Linked DNA regions of Homo sapiens. The protein of the gene in region 1 interacts with the protein of each later gene in a pairwise test. Each region holds a gene or a part of one and is shown in the gene's direction. Other genes may lie near its edges.

What was found.
Region 2: the proteins of HSF2 (region 1) and DERA interact in binary tests that used the Homo sapiens proteins (3 or more experiments, as listed by UniProt).
Region 3: the proteins of HSF2 (region 1) and CFAP418 interact in a two-hybrid assay, tested with the Homo sapiens proteins (one study listed by IntAct).

What each region holds. Positions count from the first base shown.
Region 1 is NC_000006.12:122,416,052-122,423,952, forward strand, and holds part of HSF2 (heat shock factor protein 2), read left to right. Parts: intron 1-169; coding exon 170-245; intron 246-3,116; coding exon 3,117-3,178; intron 3,179-4,083; coding exon 4,084-4,171; coding exon of another isoform or gene 4,172-4,183; exon of another isoform or gene 4,184-4,359; intron 4,360-6,098; coding exon 6,099-6,247; intron 6,248-6,666; coding exon 6,667-6,906; intron 6,907-7,529; coding exon 7,530-7,635; intron 7,636-7,901. UniProt on the Homo sapiens protein: DNA-binding protein that specifically binds heat shock promoter elements (HSE) and activates transcription. In higher eukaryotes, HSF is unable to bind to the HSE unless the cells are heat shocked.
Region 2 is NC_000012.12:15,907,022-15,915,039, forward strand, and holds the start of DERA (deoxyribose-phosphate aldolase), read left to right. Parts: upstream 1-4,310; 5' UTR 4,311-4,362; coding exon 4,363-4,393; exon of another isoform or gene 4,394-8,018. UniProt on the Homo sapiens protein: Catalyzes a reversible aldol reaction between acetaldehyde and D-glyceraldehyde 3-phosphate to generate 2-deoxy-D-ribose 5-phosphate. Participates in stress granule (SG) assembly.
Region 3 is NC_000008.11:95,258,494-95,266,394, reverse strand, and holds part of CFAP418 (cilia- and flagella-associated protein 418), read left to right. Parts: intron 1-2,620; coding exon 2,621-2,708; intron 2,709-5,862; coding exon 5,863-5,927; intron 5,928-6,489; coding exon 6,490-6,555; intron 6,556-7,901. UniProt on the Homo sapiens protein: May be involved in photoreceptor outer segment disk morphogenesis.

The sequences.
Region 1 (7,901 bases):
AGGTAGTTGTCATTCCTATGTAATTGAACCAAAGTTTTCTTGGTCTCATAAATACATATAGTAAAAACAAGTGTAGTTCAGTTGTCTGGTATTCTTAATTAAAGATACTATGGTCTGGTTTTTTGATTGATTTTTTTTTTGTTTTGTTGCTTAATAAATTATAACATAGTGAGAATGAGTCCCTTTGGAAGGAGGTGTCAGAATTACGAGCAAAGCATGCACAACAGCAACAAGTTATTCGAAAGGTAAGAAGCTCTTTTCCCCAGGACCATAATTTGCATTTGTTTAATGAGTACTGTTTGTGACCCAAAAAGGTCTTTATTGAGTGTCTGTGATTGATCTTAGTTTCTTACATATTGGATGCACAGATAGAAGTAAAAAATGAAATGAAATTAAGCCAAGTGTTACACATTTTTAATAAAAAATTTCTCACTAGCTAAAGATGGTTATTCCATACTCGCAGATAATGTCTCAGTAGCTTTTAGTAAATGATCTTTTGCCTAATATAACAATTTTGAAATACTTTATTTTTATGAGCATAATGAATACACTACCAATTTCTTTTAAAATTAGAAAACATAGCCTTACTGGTTTTTTTTGTTGGTTTTTATTATAAAAGGCATAGTTAAGGTCTCAGAAGATAAATGACAAATATTTTCAAATCAGTTGACCAAATTATGAGTTCAGAAAATGATTTCTCAATGTATGCTGTTATTAGTCTGTGGAGAAAAGCAGTTAACATAGTGTTGTAAAATGAATTTTAGATTTTAGTATCTGAGCTGAAAATTTAATAGAGGAGTTGGAATCCCTCCGTTTCATTGTGTCCTTGTGATTTAATCTTTGCATATCAGCTTTCATTTGCTAATAAGAGATGAAACATAGTAATTAAGGCAGCTATTTTTTGCTCATGAGTAAACTAGACTCTGAGTTTAAGCAACAGGTTTTTTGAGGGGGAGCTTCTGATTGCTCCTGCTTAGAAGGCCCTTGAACTAAAAATAGGGTTGTGACTGACAGGATCAGGGTCTAATGGAGAAGGCTTTAAAGCAGAGATGAGTAGCAGTTGCAGCCTGTAGCCTAGTCAACATAGATTTACTGTGTTTTTTTTTTTTTTTAAAGTGTGCAAGTGAAGGTTGAATGTAGTAGAATTCAGTTCTAAGTGTTTAGTCCAAGTACATGTATTTTTAAAACTTTCATAGGCAACTCTAATGTGCAGCCTGGTTAAGAATAGTTGACTTAAAACAATAGATGTACCTTAACCTGTACTTTATGGAAACAGTCTGTTAATACTTTTCAGAAACAGTGTTTTGGTAATATATTAGCTTACAACACTCTATAATGTGTAGATTTTTTTTTTCCTGAAAGCAAGAATAGTTGATAAAATAGCTATGTGACATTTCAGTTTTTCATGAATGCTAACATTCTGTCTGCTAAAATTTGAGTTTGAATCTCTGTGCTTTGGTGAGTGGTGTTTATATAATGCATGACGACAACCAATAATTTTTACTCTGCTCCTGGAATTTACTCTCAGCCATGGATTAATTGAGAATAATATGTGTGATGGTCCAGTTATAGGACTTAACAGGTACAGAAGTTACATGCTGTAAGTGTTAGACGCCTTATCTTCTTCAGATAAAAATCCCTGTGTAATGTGATCCAGAAGTGTCAACAGAGAACTGAGATGTAGAATAAATTTAATTTAGCCAGTGATTGATGTTCTTATAAATTCAACCTGAAGTTTTTAGAATATTCCCATAACATTTATTAATTAAAAAAACTGAAGTCGAATTGTATCATAGATATCTTTAAGCTTACATATTGTCTTTTCACTAGCTGTTAACATTTTCTCTTGAATAAGCAATTTAGTGTCTACCCTCCTTTTCATAGACTCTAATACTATGAACCTCTTCAGTTAAAATGTCTATATTTTTTTCCATTGAAAAATTGATATTGATTATAAGGCAGACCATTTAGTAGCCTTTTTTGTAAGGAAATGCTCACTGTTAGAACCTGTACAATAGATATTTTTAATTGATAATACTCTATTTAATCATGTAACTTCACAAAGCTTATAAGCACACTTTCTGCACAGAGTCTAAATAGTGCTCCAATCAATTTTGGCTTTTATTCATAGCTTCTCAGTGATATACTACTTTTTATAGTTTACCATATGATCCTCACCTTTTATAGCACCTTTAGGAAGTTGGCAATGTAATTTCAAGACATACTCTAAGCCAGTAGTTCTTATACTCACATCAGTATCCAGTCTACACTAAAGGGTTTTCTAAACATACTGGATCCCATGATCCGAATTTCAGATTCAGCAGTTCTGTAGTAGGATTGAGAATTTAACATATCCAAAGTTCCTAAGCTAGTGTTCCTGGTATTATGGGCCACACTTTAAGAAACACTACTATAAGATATGAAAGCTTGTTTGTGTGTCTTCACAATTTTCTCTCTAAATTTAATTAAATATTAAAGATTAGCTTCCCTTGTCAGTAGGAAGTTTTGACAGATAGGTCTCAACATTAATCTTTATAGAATCAGACAATAAACTTTTATCTTTTTCTTTTTTTTCTTTGGTTGCAAGCAGAGTTTGTTTGTTTAGAAATGGAGCATCACGATGTTGCCCAGGCTGGTCTCCGACTCCTGGGCTGAAGCAATCCTCCTACCTAGGCTTCCCAAAGTGTTGGGATTACAGGCATGAGCCACCACGCCTGGCCCATCACCTTTTTCTAACTCGAAAATTTCATGATTATTCTGAAGGAACTGACGGTTTATTTTGCCTCTGTTACCTGGTATAAGAAAAATGTTGCCTATCAAACACCAGTTTTCTCTTTTGCACCGTAGTGTAATCTTCAAAGTACTTGAAGTAAAAAAGTTGGGATCTATAGCCAGGCAAGTTTGGTACTTATCACCAAAACAAATAAACTGCCTGGAAGCTGGTATGTTTCTTTAGACGGTGGTTCTACGGTGCGTCTGGATTTCAAGTGTTAATATGTGAGAAATTATGAGACTTAGAGGACAAATTATTATATGAATTTGTTTTATAAGACTTGGTAATAGAGACAAAAGAATTAACAGTATAATGAAATAATTTTTGTTTATATTTTTTTCAGATTGTCCAGTTTATTGTTACATTGGTTCAAAATAACCAACTTGTGAGTTTAAAACGTAAAAGGTAAGTTTTTATGATAAAGTATTATGTCCTGTATATAGGCAGTCACACTTTTTAGTGTTTAACCATGAGTAGCCTACACTTGCTGAGTATGTGCTTGTTGTCCAAAAAGAACAATTCTCCTTTGTTAAATTATACTCTTAAAATCTCTAGAGTAGTATTATTTTTTAGTTTTATCATTCTGCTGATGTTTGTGAGAGATAAGGGTAGCCTAAATGGTCACTTTATAGACATACATACAGTTAATACAAAATATTCACTTTTCATTCACATTATTAAAGTAGCATTAGAAGGCCTGAGTGAAGGAAATTTTTAAAAAGAGGCCATATGTTAAAAAAAAAATGAAAATTTGTTTTACTTGACCTCTCTTAGTTTAAGCCACTCATAGTCTTTTTAAATCTGTATCTCAGCCATGGGTTGTGATACCTGTAAATGTCAGTAGCTACTATTGTCACAGCTAAAACATTAGAAGAATAATGGACAAAAGGAATAGTTGGAAGGAAAAAATGATCTGTAACACTAAGATTTGGGAAAAACTTGATTATGATCAGAGCTTTATGGCCTTAACTACTTCCACTAATTAGTTCTTATGATATTATCTATTTTTTTCTATATAAATACAGTTCATAGAGTTGTGTGGTTCGGTAAGCAATGAAGTATAACTGGAGAGAATAGCTTATTATAACAAAAAGAGTGTAGAAAAGTGGAGAACTGAAAGTCCTAGATATTCTCATCCAGCAGTTTCTGTTCCTAAGATGTAATCATTTTTAAGTTTATTTATTGTTACTGAAATTTTTTATTCATTATTAAGTGAGTGTGCATGTGTGTGTGTTTGGGTAAGTTAATAGAGGGAGTTTAAATTCATTGTATGTTTGCTTCACTGAACTGCATATTCTTCTGGTTTTCAGGCCTCTACTTCTAAACACTAATGGAGCCCAAAAGAAGAACCTGTTTCAGCACATAGTCAAAGAACCAACTGATAATCATCATCATAAAGTAATTTTTTAGTTAGGGTCTATTTTATATTTATTGTCTCAGACTAAATTTTATTATGGCAGTGTTTCATGCATTCAAAGAAGTGTGGTGAATAACAATTCAAGTGTTCATCCCACAGCTTTGTTAAATTGTGACATTTTTTATTATTTGCTTTAGATTATTGTAAGAAATAAATCATCACAAATCTAGTTGTTCCAGTTGCCTGTTTCTAAGTTTTTCTCTCTCCCCGTCTCTTGTCTCCCCTCTTTACTCTTCCTCGCTTACCCTAGAGGTAATCACTATCTTGAATTAGTATCTATCATTCTCATGGCCATTTTGTATATGTGAATCCAGGAGCAGTACTTGGTATTATTTTGCATATATCTAAACTTCATATAAATAATATCATTTTGTGCATATCATTTTATAGTGTGGCTTTTTTTTAACTTGATGTTGCTTTTGAGATTTATTAAACATAGCGATTTAGTTTATTCATTTCTTTTTTTTTTTTTTTTTTTTTTTTTTTTTGAGATGGGATTTCACTCTGTCACCCAGCCTGGAGTGCAGTGGTATGATCTTGGCTCACTGCAGCCTCCACCTCCTGGGCCCAGGCAATTCTCCTGCCTCAGTCTCCTGAGTAGCTGGGACTATAGGTGTGTGCCACCACACTTGGATAATTTTTGTATATTTTGTAGTGATGGATTTTCATCATGTCACCTTTGCTGGTCTCGAACTCCCAGACTCAAGCCATCTGCCTGCCTCAGCCTCCCAAAGTTTTGGGATTACAGGCATGAGCCACTGCACCTGGCTTACTCATTTCAATATTATATAATAATTGAATATTTTGAAAATGTAATTATTATAATTTAATGTGATTATATATTCTTACATTGGTTATTCTATTTTCAACTTTTTTTTATTAATGTTCACCAACTAGAATGCTTTTTACTCCAGCAATTTAAATTTTTACCTTCATTTTGTCACAGGCTTTCTGGATAATTTGTCAGATTTCTATCCAGTGGCAAATTAGTCCAGTCCAAAGTCCAGATCTTTTTTATTATCTTTTTGTTACTACTTTCAAACTTCAGAATTCAAAATAGTTCTTTAGATTTATTATTAAAGTAATAAGATTTTTGTTCTTGGACAATCAAACTTAACCTCACATCTGATTTCTTTTCCCTCTACTGTTAGAAAATAATCAAGCATACCTATTTTGTTTTTAGGATTGAAGGCTCATGTAAGTGGATGAAGATTTTTATATTTTTAACTGGGTTTATATATTTTAAAGTACTTCACATCCTTTGCCTCTTTATTATCTAGTATTGGAATTTATAGTTTTTTGCATTTTAATAATGACTTTAGTTTGCTTTACAGGATTGAACTTAGTTTGATTAATACAGCTGTAGCCTGAATATATCTGTAGCTTAAGTTTAAAAAAAAATCATTGCTAAAAAGCCAAGCTAACATGTAACTGAGAGAGGTGAAGTGCGTTTTTTTCTCTTAGTGAAGGTATTTAATGAATAAGAATAAAACACATTTCAAAACAGAGCATCTTGAGCTGAAACAATATCCCTATCAGCATGGTGGCTGTCTGGTCGTGCTTGAAGTTTCTAGTGAAGTCCTAAGACTTTTTTACTCTTTAGGCATAAAAAATACTTTAAAATTTGAAGATCTTTCCATAGAAACATTTTTAGGGGTGTCATCTTCAGGGTCCCTTACAGTAAAAGAAGTAGTAAAGTGTAGAATGCAGTTAATATACCTCATACCTCTGTGAATTGGTGCTGCTAGTACCAATTATTATGTAAGTTCCGTAAGAGCAGAGAACACACCTGTTTTGCATACCCCGAGATTCAGTAAATAGTAGTTGCCTAGTTATTTTGTAGATGATATCTTGTTTGGTAGTCAATGATTTTGATTTTTAGATATATTTTTCTCTCTGAATTTTTAGGTTCCACACAGTAGGACTGAAGGTTTAAAGCCAAGGGAGAGGATTTCAGATGACATCATTATTTATGATGTTACTGATGATAATGCAGATGAAGAAAATATCCCAGTTATTCCAGAAACTAATGAGGATGTTATATCTGATCCCTCCAAGTAAGGAGTTTGTGAGATAAAATGTATGAAAATATTGATTACTTTTCTTATTACAGAGTAAAATTCAAAACTACTTTGTTCTTTGAAAAATAATAATCTTTCTCACATTTGGATTATTAAACTTGATAATTAAGCTAAATTATTCAACCAGATAAAACCTCACCTCCTCTTCCTCTCAAAGGAGGTATACTGAAAACTAATTGATTTTTAATTTTTATTTTGGAGTTAAGCACTTCTCATTCAATCTTTATGGTCTTCTATACTATGAAGTACCAATATTGTGATTAAGCTGCTCGCTCAAGAAATTTAAGCCTTTCAGTATGTGGTATGGGGAGAGAGTTTCCATTTAGAATGAATGGATAGTATGAACTTATTAAATTTGAAAATGTAATAGGTTCCTTCTTTTATTGCTGATTTAGCTGTAGCCAGTACCCTGATATTGTCATCGTTGAAGATGACAATGAAGATGAGTATGCACCTGTCATTCAGAGTGGAGAGCAGAATGAACCAGCCAGAGAATCCCTAAGTTCAGGCAGTGATGGCAGCAGCCCTCTCATGTCTAGTGCTGTCCAGCTAAATGGCTCATCCAGTCTGACCTCAGAAGATCCAGTGACCATGATGGATTCCATTTTGAATGATAACATCAATCTTTTGGGAAAGTGAGTGCTTATCTAGATGTTGTCTAAAATTATTTGCTTTCTTTGTTCACTTCACATGTTCTGTTTCTCTTTGAGTAATCTTCCTTTCAGATGATGAACCCACATAGTCCACCTTTCTCTGTTTTGGTCAGTGTTGAGTTCTGTAATGAATGGGATTTAATCATCCCAAGAATAGTCTTGGTATTTTCCTGGTAGTTTCTCAGATTCCTTTGATGATATACTTCCTTTGAGTGTACATACAGTGTTTGTGATTATATATATTTGTGTATCCAAACTACAGAATAATGTAATTTCTAGTAAGGTACTTATAACAAAGAAAACTTAATAGTAATAATCAGTAATGAGATTAAACATTTTATATAGTATAGAGGAAAAAGGTAAATCAGACTGTTCTGCAGGGTGTGTTTTTCTGTAAATACTAAAGTTTTCTGTAAAGGCTATGAATTTTCAGTTAACCAGATTTTCAAGAATTCCTACTCTAGAATAAGATCTCTTAAGATTAAGAACCGGTAAGGATGCAGCAGCTGCTAGAAATATCTTGCCTAGCCAAGTTGTAATGGTGATTTTTAAACATAAAAACAAGGATATCTAATATTTGATTAAAAAAATTTTTTTTTCCTTAGGGTTGAGCTGTTGGATTATCTTGACAGTATTGACTGCAGTTTAGAGGACTTCCAGGCCATGCTATCAGGAAGACAATTTAGCATAGACCCAGATCTCCTGGTTGATGTAGGTACTTTGGGTAATCTTTGCTATACTGGTAGTTTGTGTGTTTATGTATATTATTTAAAAACCAGTACGTCATTTTGTTTTGTATTCTACAGGTTGTTTTTGCATTTCTTTTTTAAATTAATAATTTTGTTTATCAGAAAGAATGAAAAAATAGGTTTGGGACATTGAAGGAGTATGATTACCACCTGCCTTGGAGTAGCAATTGAACTAATTTCCCTGTGAGAACATATCAGATCTTTTCAGCAGTACTGTTAAGTTCATGT
Region 2 (8,018 bases), on another chromosome or scaffold:
AAATTCCATGGAAGTATTTAGCTGCCTTTTCTTTGAGACCAAGGTTGGGGAAAAATGGATGCAATTTTTCAGAAGGGAGCAACAACAAGATGCATTGAAAAAGCAGACCAATGGAAAATATTTCTCAACTAGCTACCTTGCTTATGCTTTACACCTAGGGGATTAACAACTTAAAAAGAGGTTCTTATTAGGTTACTATATGTTACTGTGCATGTCTGTCTGCTACACTGGGGGGTTACCCATGAAAACATTGTTAAAGCAAGAACATTCTCAGATAAGAGGGGGCCTAGCTTTTCATTGGTTATCTATTTAATATAGAAATGCTTAATTGCAAGTGTGCTATAGTGTCACTTAGACTGAGGTGACTAGATCAGTAGAGTTCTCGGAGGCATCTAACAAATTTACCTTTGGAAACAAGGCCCAAGTATGCGTCTAAATGATAGCTAATGAACAATAATAATACTTTATAGATTGAATCACTTTAATGAGAGAATAGAACATGGTCAAGTGGAAGGTAACTGATTTTAGTTTAAGGACGAGTATGGAAATGATATAAGTGCCTTACGTTAGGTTTTAATGTTAACACGTGTGTCACTTTTTAATCTCTCCCAGTAATCCAATGAGATAGGTAATTGTCTCCGTTGCATATATGGAAAACCTGAATTTCAGAGAGGTTTAATGGTTTGTCTAATAAGTTTAGCTTCCAAGAGATAGTAGGGAATAGTGTGTAGTCTAAGGTTATATATTGTTATATGATTATATATTGCCAGGTTTTAAGCAATCGTCTAGCACTTACAGGCAAATCTCTCTTAGCCTCAGTTTATCTGTACAGGGAGAAAAGAGTTCTCACAGATTTTTTTCAGGAAAAATCTCATAAATATGAAATACCAAATACTTTATGGAAAGGACTTAATTCACAGGAAGCACTTAATATTAGCGAGTATTATATATTGTATCAGTGATTCCCAAGCTTTAGGATTCTGTGGCCAATAGACTTCAAAATGGGGGAGAGGAGATGGAATGGTCGGCTTCTAGCCAACTGAGGCTATTAAAAAAGAAAAAATAATTATCTAACGCCACGATCTTTATAAAACGACATTTTAAAATTCAAATTGGTAGTGAACAACGTAGTCTCAGAATGAAGGAGTGTTCTTTAAATTGAATAAATTTAGCTTCATAAAACACTCAGTATAATTCTTATTTTTTTTTTATTTTACCATGAACTAGGAATTGGATGTTCTATTAGTCTCCCTCCAGTTCTAAAATATTTTGACTCTAATATTCACAATTTTTCATAGTCCTCCCTGCTCCTACACTTTTCTCCATCTGACCTAGAAATGCTGGCTGACAGTTTGTAGTCTAAGTGGTTATTTACCTAATGAACTTGTGAATAATTGCTCTTAGAAATCATAGGAGTAGAGACTATATCAAATGAAATTTGACTGGATAAAACAGTAGGCAGTATAAGAAAAGTAGCAAAGACAGCAATATACACTCATTCATCTAACAAATATTTATAGTCTACTAATTGCCAACTACTGTACTAGATCCTACATATGATGAACCAAACACAAATGATCTATGCCCTTTGGACCTTAAAATTTGTTTTACTCCTATCTCCCAGGACTGGTAGGTTCTTAGAAGCTTCAAGATAAATATTACATATTCCTAGAGCTTTAATTTTAATTAAAGGAGGAGTGAGGGTGGGAGGATAATTAGGTAATTTATTTGGCAGTTTAAAATTTACATTGAAAAACATCAATGAATAGGAATAGCATGCAAAATTTACATGGCTTAAAAAATACAACATGTAATACTTTAAAAGCAATTTTACTCTTGTAAGAGTCAGTTTGGGCTATGGCTCCAGATTGGCATGCATAGTTTATTTTCCTCTGCTTCTCATTGGTGGTTCTTTACGTTTAGTTTGCATAAACATTGTTTGAAGAAATATTAAAATTACAGATTCCAGGGTCCTAGATACTCTGATTGAGTAGGGCTGTGAGGAAGCCCAGAACTGCTTTAGAAAAAGCTCTTGGGTGATTCCCATGTAGTGGTCTATAGCTCTTTCTTTGAGGGGACTTGCCTTAGGGATACTTCAGAAGTTTCATAAGGCAATAAATGTAAAAGGAATCTTCACAAAATGAAATATAGGAACATTTCTCTGTGAAAGAAACTCATTTTTTGCATACTATCCCTGCTGTCTCTCCTAATGTTGCCAAATTAACATACTTTTAAACTGCAGAGATTAATTTGAGATTAATACATTCAACAGGTCCATTTTAGAAAAAGTCCTTGAGAAATTCTTGACTGATACATTGCTAAAACATTGCTTTAAGAGGCTGCCCTAATTCTGATTTTTCAACTAATTTAGGATATCACAATTTAAAAACAAACAAACAAACATTTATGTAATGAATGGTATGGAATCTGGTTTGGAGTTGTGTTTACTTCTAAAAATAGAATTTCATGTATTGCCTTTGTATCTTCTAGAGATGTGAATGATCTCCAGCCAGAGACCACCAGTAACACACCTACAAGTGGACAAAGTTGTGTTTATTGACATTGTAACAAGGGAGAATGCTTGCCATGGGCACCTAATGTGAGGTGTCTCAGTAAGAGGATGTTAGAAACTACATAGGATTTGGGCCTGTCGTAGGTGATTTGGGGAAAGTTCAAGGAAGGATCTGGACTGGATGATGGTAGGAACTGGTGATAGTAGTGCATCTTAATTCTTATCTAAAACATAGGAATGGAGTGAAGCTAGAACTGATTGGTAAAGAAGTCATAATAGCTAGGATAGGGGCTATTTGAACAATATTCATGGTTTTCTATTATCAGACATGATTATGATTATGTTTTTGTTGATTCATTGTGGTCACAATGGCCTTGGCTGATGCTGTGCTGTGAAATTGTATACGTTTAACCAGGGAAAACCATGGTCCAGTTGTGAGTTTCAGGCCAGCTCCAGGCTTTCAGGGCCTGCTTTTCTCTTTTTCAAGGTTAATATAAAAAAGAAAAGTGCTATAGTATGTATGAGTAAGATCTACACACATCCGAAACATTCAACAGTGGCTGTGTGTGGACAAGGCTGAAAGCTCAATGTAGAGGAGTATACAAATATTACTATTCCTATTTAAAACAGCTCAGTAATTACTGTGTGAACTTGACAATAACATTAACAGCTTCCATTTTTTAAGTATCTACTGTATGCCATGTTATGTACTAGGTGCCTTGCATACATTCAACAGCTTTGCAAGGTGAACATATTTTGATCATCTCCACTTTACAGGTAAGTAGACAGACTATTATTTCCAGAACTGCCAAGTTACATTTATTAAATGGAAGAGCTGGTATATTAATGGGTTCAGCTCATTTTGAGCTCACTGTATTTCCCCTATACCAGGATGCCTTTCTATTCAGAACTTTGATGTCTAAAGTTACAGCAATGGAGATAAAATACATTATTGGCAGGATTGTTCAGAGACTCAAATGCTATCATACATCTATATATGATGTATGAAAGCACCTAGCACAATAACTGGCTCATGGTAGACAAATCATAACTAACTGTACTGTTTTCATAGCAGAGGTGCCTCTAAACGTGAGTACAGATAAGTTAACTATATTGAGATTGTGGAGTGACTCGACGATTTTAACCTCTTGGTCACAGAGAAATCAGGCTGAAGCATTTTACCTTTATAGAATCATAGTATTTTGAAGAACCAAGAAATTGTCAAGGTCTTCTTTTACAGATGAGAAAAATGAAGCTCGGAAAAGCAGTTAATTTGCCCAGGGTCACACATTTAATTATTGCCCGAGCTTGGCTAAGAAACCAGGTCTTCTGACTCCTAAGCCCTTGCCTTCTTCAGGCCACATAGCTGCTTCTTTTCATGATGTGTAGATTAGAAAAGTCAGTGTGCCCCGGGGCCCTTGATTGCACCTTGGTTTCCCTAACAAGGATATGGGATCCCTGCTGACATTTCAGACCTTAAGTTGCAGAGCTCTGCACTTGGATCTTCTTCCTTCTTGTTATATAATCTTACAGTTAAAAGTTTCTAGGAATATTTTTATTACGTGCAATTGGCAACTTCAGTATTTTTTAAAGGGTGTTGGTAGCATTATTTCCGGGAGCTACTTAGCGCTCCGGTTCGGTACCTCGTGGAGAAGACGGGGGAGGGGAGCAGCGAGATTTCCTTGCGGAGCAATATTCCTAGGGTACAGACCTCGTAGCCCGGGCCCGCGACTCCGCCCCGGGAGCGGGCAGGGGCGGGGCGAGCGCTCCAGCTGGCGGGAAGGAGGAAGGGCCGGGCGCGGCGCAGAGGCGGGCGCCTACCAGCCGGCAGCTCCGGAGCTGCCCGCGCCATGTCCGCGCACAATCGGGGCACCGAGCTCGGTAAGGGGCCCGCGGGGCTCCCCATCCCCTCTCCCTCGCGTTCAGCGCCGCCGGGACTAGCGCGGGGCCTGCTGCCGCCCAGTGCCCTGGCTGTGGGTCCCCGAGGGGTTTTCGCTGGGGCGGGAAGCAGTGGCGTCTGGTCAGCCCTCACCCCAAGTAAAGGCCGAACCCGGCACGTTCGCGCCGCTTGTCTTTGCACCTAAGCTTTTACTCTTGTATGCGGAAGGAGTAGGAAAGGGTTAGATTATTATCTTCCTGCCTTTTCGTTCACTCTAGCTCGCTGGTTGGAAAACCCAACAACCCAAAAAACAAAACCCAAAACAAACAACCCCCAAGCAGGTAAAAACAGATAAAAACCTTCTTTCTCCTCCTTTTAATAGAATACTTGTGTAATTTAATGCAGTATTTCCGTAGATAATTTTAACCGTAACCTTGAAGTGGCCGTGCTCGTGGAAAAGTTGTCAGCCGTCTGTGCTCAAAATGTAACACTGCAGATTCATGGGATTTTAGAGTTACAAAGATTTGTTAAAGTACCTGTATTATTTCCCAGTTTTCATCTTTTTTTATATTGTTCAAATACTGGCAAGAAACCTTAGTTCAGATTTCTTTTTTTTTTTTTTTTATTGATCATTCTTGGGTGTTTCTCGCAGAGGGGGATTTGGCAGGGTCATAGGACAGTAGTGGAGGGAAGGTCAGCTGATAAACAAGTGAACAAAGGTCTCTGGTTTTCCTAGGCAGAGGACCCTGCGGCCTTCCGCAGTGTTTGTGTCCCTGGGTACTTAAGATTAGGGAGTGGTGATGACTCTTAACGAGCATGCTGCCTTCAAGCATCTGTTTAACAAAGCACATCTTGCACCGCCCTTAATCCATTTAACCCTGAGTGGACACAGCACATGTTTCAGAGAGCACAGGGTTGGGGATAAGGTCACAGATCAACAGGATCCCAAGGCAGAAGAGAATTTTTCTTCAGATTTCTTAACATGTGAAAAATTTATAATTCAAACAGCAAAACCATGATCAAGAGAAGGTTTAAGCGTCTCGTTTAAGTATTATAGCTTGGATATCTGTGTATCCAGGATCTTTAACTTCTTACCTGTGTGACTTCGGACAAATTAATAACTTTGCGCTTAAGTTTCTTCATCTGTAAAATGGTTATTTTAGTGGTAGTTACCTTATAAGGCCGTTAGGAGATTAAATAGGATACATGTAAAGTAGTTTGGTATATTGTGGACACCTAGTAAGTCTTCAGTATAGATAGTATTAGTATATGGAGTTATGGTTTTAGGGGCTAATTTTGAGAAAATTGGCTGTAAATTATATGTAACACATACAGGTAGGTCCTTTTCGCCCTCCTTAAAAGTGACTGGTACTTAAACAGTCTGCACTTCCAAGAGGTGTTCTGGATTTTTTGTCGAATGGTAAGAGAGTAAATCTATCATTTTAAAGACAGTTGATTTACTAACCTGGTTGATTTTGTTTTAGTCACTGTCCTCTAGCTGATTATGTTTTAAACTCTAGTCCTATCTCTGGAACGTGGTCTTTAGTAATAACGGCATTATTTCTTAGATTGGAATATCCTTGAAGGTGGTGGATATGGGGCAGGTTTGGGGTGGTGTCTTACCTGGGTATTCCCAGGAATATGACCATGTGACTATGCATACATCAAGGATGTGCCCTAAATTTCCCAAAACTTAGACATTTTAAATTTTTCTTTCAAAAAACATAATTGAACCATTTTTAAATTTATTTATTTGCAGTAATTAGAATCAATCACTTCCATTCATTTGTTGAAAAGTAATAGACATAAATAATTGCCAGGTAGAACAATAGTAAATGTGGTTTTTATGCAGCTATCGAAATGATCATAGCTTTGTATTTATTATCTTATTTGTTAAAATCAGATTTTTTTCCTTCACGGGTATTAATCCTTAATCCAAACAGGTTTAAACTGAAATGCTAAAATAAGTTATTTGAATTAGGTACTAGGGAAAAAAATCTTTCAGTATTAATTTATGCAGTATATTAACTGATGATTTTTAAAATAGTTTTCTAATTGAAAGTCTTTTTAATAAACATCGTAACTAATTTCTAAAATAAATTAACATTTTTGCTTCCCTTTTCTTATTACAAAAGGAATTCATGGTTATTGTAAAAATTCTAGAAAATACAGTTAGCACAAAAATGTTGTAATATTATTACTAGTCCAATCACTGTTATTTATGATTTGGTGTATGTACTTCTAGTTCATGGACTTAAAAAAACATTGAGTTCCTTTGAGACTAAACCTGACCCTCATGATTAAAAAGTCTTTAAGGAAAACATTGGCATTTGGATGTATGAAAGATGTTTTCCAAATAGGGAATGTACCCTCTAGCTTTCATATTAGAGGATGGGGCCCAGCATTCTGAGTTTTAACAAATCCTGTGGGTAGTACTGAAGCATACCCAAGTTTGAGAACCAATGGCTTAATGATCTCCAAGGTACTATCAAGTTTTGTACCTAGACTATTATGCCCTATATAGTCTATTAAAATGTACAGATATTCTTCTATTTTATTAGATGCCACTTAACTATTGCCTAAAATGCAGGTGTCACGTGGGTAGTGATCTTTCTTTTGTTCACTGATGTGTCCCAAGTACCTAGAATAGTGTTTGGTACACAGAAGGCCCTCAAAAATGTCTTGAGGCTGGGCATGGTGGCTCATGCCTATAGTCCTGGCACTTTGGGAGGCTCAAGGCAGCCGGATCACTTGAGATCAGAAGTTGGAGACCAGCCTGGCCAACATGGCAAAACCCTATCTCTACTAAAAATACAAAAATTAGCTGGGCATAGTGGCGCATGCCTGTAGTCCCAGCTACTTGGGAAGCTGAGGTACGAGAATCGCTTGAACCCAGAGAGTGGAGGTTGCAGTGAGCTGGAATTGTGCCACTGCACTCCATTGGGCAACAGACTGGAGACAGACTGTGTCTCAAAAAAGATAAAAAAAAAAAAAAAAAAAGAAAAAGTCTGTTGAATGAAGGAATGAATTGAGAGCTGCTTCTTACTTGGGGGAACTGGGGAATCTACCTGGTCCCCGTGTATGGTTGCATGGACAGATGCTGTGAAGCTTGGCACCTTCTTCCTCTTTGTAAGTATTATTAAGATTCAGTTTTGTTACATCCGTCTTCAGAGCTATCTCAAGAAGCCTATAAAGGATGTAGATAGTGTAACTTCCTTGCAAATGTTATCTTTGGAGGCGTCTGGAGAATGCGGGTGTTATTAGATGACTTCTAAGGATCTCCCTGCTCTGTCTCTGTGTGTCTGAAAACTCTTCTGTTCAAAAAGCAACATTTCAAAGATATCTGAAAAATAACCATGATGGGATTTTGTATTTTTTTTCGAGACAGAGTCTCCCTCTGTTGCCCAGGCTGGAGTGCGGTGGTGTGATCTTGGCTCACTGCAACCTCCGTCTCCCAGGTTCAAGCAATCCTCCTGCCTCAGCCTCCCGAGTAGCTGAGATTACAGGTGCCTGCCACCAAGCCCGGCTAATATTTTTATATTTTTAGTAGAGACGGGTTTTTGCCATGTTGGCCAGGTTGGTGGGATTTTTTTATTTTAAGAAGCACATTTATTTAGGTAGTTATTG
Region 3 (7,901 bases), on another chromosome or scaffold:
ATGCAATTTGTTGAAGTGTTCAAAATGATAAAAAGAAATATGTGATTAGTAAAAAAATTAAAAAAGACTGATGTGGGTTGAGAAGAACTGCAATAGGAATAAAGTGGTTCAGGATGATACAGATGGGAATATTTAAAGATAATATAGCTTTCTAGATGATAACTATAATAACAGCCAACATTTATTGAGCTCTTTCTGTATGCTAAGTGCTTTGTATATGTTATTTCATTTAATCTTCACAATCCCATGCGTGAATACTGTTATCCCCATTTCATTGACCAAATCAATGCTTAGTTACTTGCCTAAAGTCATATTGCTAAATCACAAGGACATAGTAGATCTAGATTTAAGCTTTCTATATAATACCTCTCACATTTAATTATAGGTTTAAGTGTTTATATTTTATCTTAAATATATGTTTTATTTTCAGCAGAAACTATATCTTTAAAAGATTAGAATGTCAGAAACAGAGTCAGAAAGGGAACCAGTAAAAGCTTATTAACATTTGATTGAGATTATTGTCACATCAAAAGACCAAAAAGAGTCTTATACAGTCCTTTAAAATTATGAGTTCTCAATGAAATGTTGACTTTATTGTTATTACTATAGCAAAGCATAGGCAAGTGTAGGCATTTTGAAATTGTGTGATCTAAGAACAGACCAGAATCTTATGTAAGCTGGTAATTTGGATCTGTAACAGTACTGATTAGGTTGGTGGAGTTTGGATGTATCTGATTCTTGAAATTGTGAAATTGCATGAGGGAGGAGAACCCGGAAAGTATGTCCTGAAAGCCAAAGGAGAGAATTTTAAGAGGACATCTTAGCAACCTCTTATCGAAAAAGAAATATAAGGAATTGGTACCCAACAGTGTCAGATGCTTCTGAAAGATTAAAGAGGATTGGAACTGAGAACCACCATTAGATTGTAGTGATTTGGGCAGTGGAAACCTTCGAGAGAAGAGTTTCACTATAGTTGAGGGATTAGAGGCCAGAAGTAGAATATTATACCTGAAAGAAATTTTAAATAGTCATCTAGATATCATTTTTATAGATAAAATATTTGAGTTTCAGAGAGATTAAATAATTTAAACTAAGTCGGTATCTCTAGACTGGTGATGATTTTGCCACCCAAGGGGCATTTGGCAATGTCTGGAGACATTTTTTATTGTCGCACCTGGGGAAGGGTGTGCTATTATTTAATAGCATCTAGTGGGTAGATGCTGTAAAATGTCCTGCAATATACAACAGTCTCCTGCCCCCACATACACACCCCAGAGAATTATCTGACCCAAAATGTCCATAATTCCAAGGCTGAGAAACCCCCGCCTAGGATTAGCACCCAACTGATTCTAAATCTAGTCTACTTGTAAGGAAGTAGAAATCGTGGATATAGACTATTCTTCAGTAGTGAGTAAGAAAGGGTGGCAGCTTCAAGACAGGGGTTTTTTGAAGTGTCTCTTTGAAGAAGCAAGCCTTGAGCATACCTCTAAGTCAAAGGAAGAAACCAGTATACAGTGAAAGACATTAAGGGTAAAAGTTACAGTACAACTGAAGAGGCTAAGCCTGGAGACAGAATCAACCATTAGGTAGTAGGCAGCCGTCTCTTGCTTTTCTTATATCAGGTTAAATTATTTTACTCCAAGATGTAATGAAGAAGGCCTATGTTAAAAATTGTCAGAGTAAATACATTTCTGAAATTAGAGAGTTTGACTAAAAAACTTGTCTTCTAAAACAAATAATTTAATGAAGTTATAAAGTTGATGTACAGCATCTACTTCATACAAACGCTAAAGAAAGTTAATCTTGTATAGTATTAAGTGCACGGACTGCCCTAGATTCAATTCCAAGCCTTTTCTCCCACTACTTATATGACCTTGAACAGATTTCTGAATCTCTCAGTGCCTTTTCTTCATCTATAAAACTGGGGTTAAATAAAGATATACTCATGTAAAGACTAAGGACAATGCCTGGGTTATAGTAAGTATTCAGTAAATACTTACTATTTAGTTATTAGCTATTTAGCATCAGCTATTAAATAGAAGTTCTATGCAGTAGTGGTTTATATTAATAATCCAGTGATGGCTTTGCCTGCAGAAGGTAGAGGTAGTTGAGTAGTTGAGATATTCTGTCTAACAAATAGCACCTTTTTTTGGGGTGGAGGTGGTCATTTGATTACATGACCTTCGGCCCCTCTAGTAAAGAGGTATGGTTGACTTACAATGCAACCTTTAGGGGAAAAGTCAGGAAGACTCGTTAAAATTATCTTTGTTTATAATATCAGGTTCTGCTTATTGCACATATTTTGTATTAAATACATGCTTTATGTAATTCAGATAAGTACATACCCAGCTTCCTCTTGAATATAATGTATATAGCTGTAAATGTCTGAAGTATGTAATATCAAGTATGTAATAGTATAGAACATATGTGAATTTGTACCTGATAAAGTATATCTTTGTCTCAACAAACTTAGACTATATCCACAGTGAAAAAAATTAAAATCACTTTTATCTTTCTATTATCAGCTCTAATAATGGACTTTAAGCAAAACTCTTCTGATACTAGCTTTCTCTGCTCATAAACCTCAGGTAAGTTTTCTTTGTGTATGTCTTCTTTTCAGATCAACAGAAACATTTAAAAAAGAAGATGATCTTGACAGTCTTATTAATGAAATACTTGAAGAGCCCAACTTGGACAAAAAACCCTCTGTAAGTCAAGTGTTATAAATATGTAGTAATTCTGTCATTATTTCAAGACATGTTTAGAATAGTCTTAAAGATGACACAAGTAGCTACCCATTATCTTTTGAATTCTGAGAAATACAATTACTTAAAGAAATTATTACACTTAAAGAGCAGTAGAAGCAGTAAAATATCAGAAACTCTCAGTATGTGTTTCCCTGTGCATTTCTCAGTAAGAATAACAAATTAGAAAAGCTGTTAGCATAGAAGTCAACTCACACATCAAGCTGGTCACTTGTATTTATTTGTAGTATCTAAGGACACTTTTCTAAAAGGCCAAAAACAAACAGCTTTCATTGTAGGAATGTGCTTAGCACCTCACATGCAATGCCATTGCTCTTATCCCATGAAGCAATGACTAAATTGTTAATATTTCAGTTTTTTAAATGTTTGTATGTCTATTTTAGCTGCATAAAAAGTTCAGAAAGTAATATAACAGCAACCTATATACTGAACATACCATGACAGCCACCCATATTAAACATATATTAATGTTTTGCCACATTTGCTTTACTGGACCTTTTTTTTTAAAAAGAAGTACAAATTAAAGATATAGTTTAAGACCTCTCTAAATCCTATTCTATTGCCTTCCTTCCCAAAGATAACCATTTATCCTTTCCATCCATACATTTATACTTTCATTACATATGTACATAACCATAAACAATTCTAACTGTGTACAGTAGTCCATTGTATAACTCTGCCACAGTTTATCCACTTCCCTGATGATGGACATTTAGATTGTGCTCAGTTGTTTGCTATTACAAATAGTGCTTCATCAGATACCTTTTTTTTAATCGGAGAAAAGGCATACAAATTTTGACATGTACACAGGGAAAACCAGTGATTACGCCTTCATTAGATATCTTTACATGGCTTCTTTTACCCATATACGGAAGTTTCTCTAGGGTGTATAAAGCTAGAAGAGGAATTCCTAGGTCATAAGGTGTGCTCATCTTCAACTTTTCTACCCATTGCCAAATTGTTTTCCAAAGTGACTTTATCACTTAACATTTTTCATACTGGGCAGTATATGAGAATTTATGTATTTTAATTTTTATCAGTATGGTGTGTGTCAAGCATTATCTGTTAGATTTAAAAGAAAGATACAAAAATAGAAGTCTAATTTACAAAGATCACAAAAAAATTTAAGAAATAACTATAGTACCAGGGTTTTGTTTTTTAAAGGATAGGGAAGATAAAAGCAAAACAGTGGACTGAAAATACCTAGGTAATGGTTGTGGTAAGAATATGGATAGGGACCACTTACATTTTTGTCACCCAGACTAAAAATCAAGTGACTAGTATAGATTTTAGAAAATTAAACTTTTTCAATTCACCTGAAGTAAATTAATAAGCACATGCCAAGTTGAATAATATGTAAACACAATAGCAATATTAAATACAGTCATTCCTTGGTATACTCAAGGGATTGGTTCCAGGACCCCCACATATACCAAAATCCATACATACTCAAGTTCCACAGTCAGCCTTACAGAACCCACCTTATGAAAAGTTGGCCCTCTGTACGTGGGGTTTCGCATGCCACAAATACTGTATTTTTGATCCTTGTTTGGTTGGAAAAATTCCACATATAAGTGGACTTGTGCAGTTGAAACGCATGTTGTTCAAGGGTCACCTGTACCCTGCAAATAGAATACTTCCTAAATACTGAGTAAGTGCATAAGCACTGAATAGTAATGCCAATTAGTAGTACTAATTAATGGTAGAAAAAAATTACATCATTTTGTTGCTCTTCATTAATCATCTGAGCAATTCATTGTTTATTAAGTACCAATAGGGTGCATATCTGTATATGAGGCGCTATCTTTTCAGTTAAGGTGTTTCAGAAGAAGATAAGTACTTCTCTGGTTTGGCTTTAAGATATACTAATTTGAAATAAAAGTAGCTCTTATAATCATGAAGAAGTAAATTTTTAATCATGATCTTTTCCTTTTTTAGTTATGTATTATGTCCAGTTTTCCAACCTTCAAAGGAGACAGCAGGTCTAAGTAAAACATTTATTGGGAAAAAAAAACATGTATTAACAAAAGAAACATAGATAAACAGATAGTCTATGCCAACGTTGTCATTAGAGGCTATATTATGCCCTGACAATACTACTCCCTTACCGCACCTCCTGCTCTCCCATTCTGTCGCATTTCTGAACTGTTCCCAGACCCACACAAGAAAGCCCAGGAACCAACAACAAACCTCAGAGTGTGCCAGCTTAGAGTCATAAGCCTGAGTCTGGATGGCACATGAAACATGCTCCCCAAACAGAAAGATTCGTGCATATTATTATTTTTCAAACATGTACCAAAATTTTTTCCATTTCTGCTTAACATCAAATAAGAGTTGAGAGACATAGTAAAACAATATTTTCGCCTCTATTAAATTTCCTCACCCACTATGTAAAATGAAGGCATGTCTCTGCATAGTTTAAATTGCCTTTTCTCCATCTCACTTCCTCTCCTTGGCGGTGGTCCTAGTGTGTGGTTGGTTTATGTTGTTTGGTACCATATACCAGTTAACACTTAATAAATGCTTGCTAATGATGATGATACTATGTAACCATATAGGAACTACTGTATGGTTGTGACTAGGTAGTTCTACATTTTCCTTGCACATTTATTGGTTGATGCCATTCCATTTGATCAAAATTAATATTCCTGAAGTTACACAGGAGCTTGGTTAATTTTAATTCATATGACGCACATTCACAGCCTTTAAAAATGAGTCTGAGGTTTTTTTCCTCCTCAATTGAATTTTTCTAGAATGAAGTTTTAAATAGCAGGTCCTTCATATTAAATCATTGAACTGTAATATTAACTGAAGAGTTATAAAGTGACTCTAAATCTTAGCATGCTAATAATGGCAATATATCAGTTTCCTAGCCTAAAAGTTAGTAGAGTAATTTGCACATTCCTTAGGGAGTTCTACTTCCCTTTTGCCTTTAAAAGGTTTTGATCATTGTTTTTATTTCAGAAACTTAAAAATGATGCCATGAAAATTTGTATTTAAGTCATTTAGAAAATATTCTTGTTATAAGGAATATTAGTTTTCATGTTACAGTTTTCTAAGTTACTCATGGCCTTTTATTGTTTTGCTTTTTTAACAGAAATTAAAATCTAAATCTTCAGGTAACACATCTGTCAGAGCTTCCATTGAAGGCCTTGGTAAAAGGTAAGTTGAGATTGCTTTGGTGAATTATACACACTATTGAGCAAACACTATGAGCATAGTCTAGTAGATTTTGTTACCATTTAAACAGCAGTGACATTGAACAACAAAGCATTGGTTGGCCTTCAGGAGAAAGACCAATAGCAATATCTTCAGTGTTCTTATGGTCTGTGACCCCCTTTGTGTAAAGGAAATTAAATGGGGGATTATTGCTATTGTAAATAATTTTCTGCCATTTAAAAAAAGTGTGAACAGTTTCTCAAAATTAATGTTCTGTTATATTCTTCAGTATTTACTTTGTCCCTTACATTATTTGGCAAACACATTTTTCTTTTACTCATTTTAATTCCTTGAGTGTTCCTGAATGTACAGGTTATATCCAATAAAGCAGTGATCCTACAATAAATATCTCTTCTTTGAAATGGTTGGCTTGCTAGGGAAAATAGACAATTTGATTACAAGAACATAAAGTCAATAAAACCAAAAATTTTTTTAACATGGCCAAATTAACTTCTCCTATTTTTTGTTATAACTTCATATTTTTGCATCTGTTGAACACATCTAGTTGCAGTCCGGTGTACCTTGGTGGAAGCTCTATTCCATGTGGGATTGGAACAAATATTTCATGGAGGTAGGTTGTCAGAAATGTATTATACTTTCTTACTAGGTTTTTTCCAAATGGATGCCCCATTGTTAAAATGTAGTTATCATCTTCACATCAATCTGTTTTATAAGGAGAGGTATTTTTATTAGCTAATCTAAGAATTCTTTGTTTTTTATTCTTGGGAGATAGCTATTGAAAGCTGTGATGTTAGGTACATATTATTCATTTTATGCCCTTTTCTAAGCCCCACTTGAAATGCCTGGATCACTCCAGTCCCAGCTTTGTTTCCACAGGACACAGGAGAGTGAACTTCCTTCCAGGCAGTGGAAGCAAAGTGGCCATGCAGATACATGATGCCTTACCCACACTGCCTTGGCCAATTAGCATGCAAAGCTACAGGTCTGCATTGCCCAAAACATTCTCAAGCGTAGTTGCTTGATTTTACATGTTTACATATTTCAAAAACAAAAACCTTATGTTCTTTGTCTCTTCCCTGCCCTTCCTGCCTCCACTTTCTCACTCAGTACCTCTTTCTGGGCAGTCTTATAGTCATGATGCCACCTACCCCAAACCCATATTAGCCCCATAGTCCTAGCACATTCCATTGGCATTTTCATAATGTGGGCAAACAGTTTGGCTTTAAGCAAACCCTACTCTCCTGCTGCTTTTGGTTCTATTTTTGGCAGAGGTCTACTTACCTAACTTACTTTATTAAAATACTTTTATCTAATTATTTCTAAAACACTTATTTTCTGTTAATTTTTTAAGAAAGAATGGCCTAAGTTATATGATTGCATGTTGACCACATTTCTGGAGGGCTAACTGTTGTATAGTCAAGTGTCACCAACAAGGATACATTCTGAGAAATATGTCATTAGTCATAAGTCATTATGACTTCCTCATGTACAAACATCATAGAGTGTACTTACACAAACCTAGATGATATAGCCTACTCCACACCTAGGCTAGGTGGTATACTAGCCTACTACATACTACTAGGCTATAAACCTGTGTAGCATGTAACCGCACTGAATACAGTAGGCAGTGGTAACACAATGGTAAATATTTGTGTATCTAAATATTAAAAAGGTACAGCAAAAATACATTGTAAAAGATTTTTCAAATGGTACAGCTGTATAGGGCACTTAGCATGGACAGAGCTTGCAGGACTGGAAGTTGCTCTGAGTGAGTGAATGAGTGGTGAGTGACTGTGAAAGCCTAGGATATTACACTAGTATAGACTTTATAAACACTGTAGCTTAGGCTACACTAAGTTTACTTTTAAATGTCTTTAATAATATTAACCTTAGCTTACTGAAACTTCATTTATAAATTTTTTTATTTTTTTAACTTTTGATTCTTTTTAATAACAA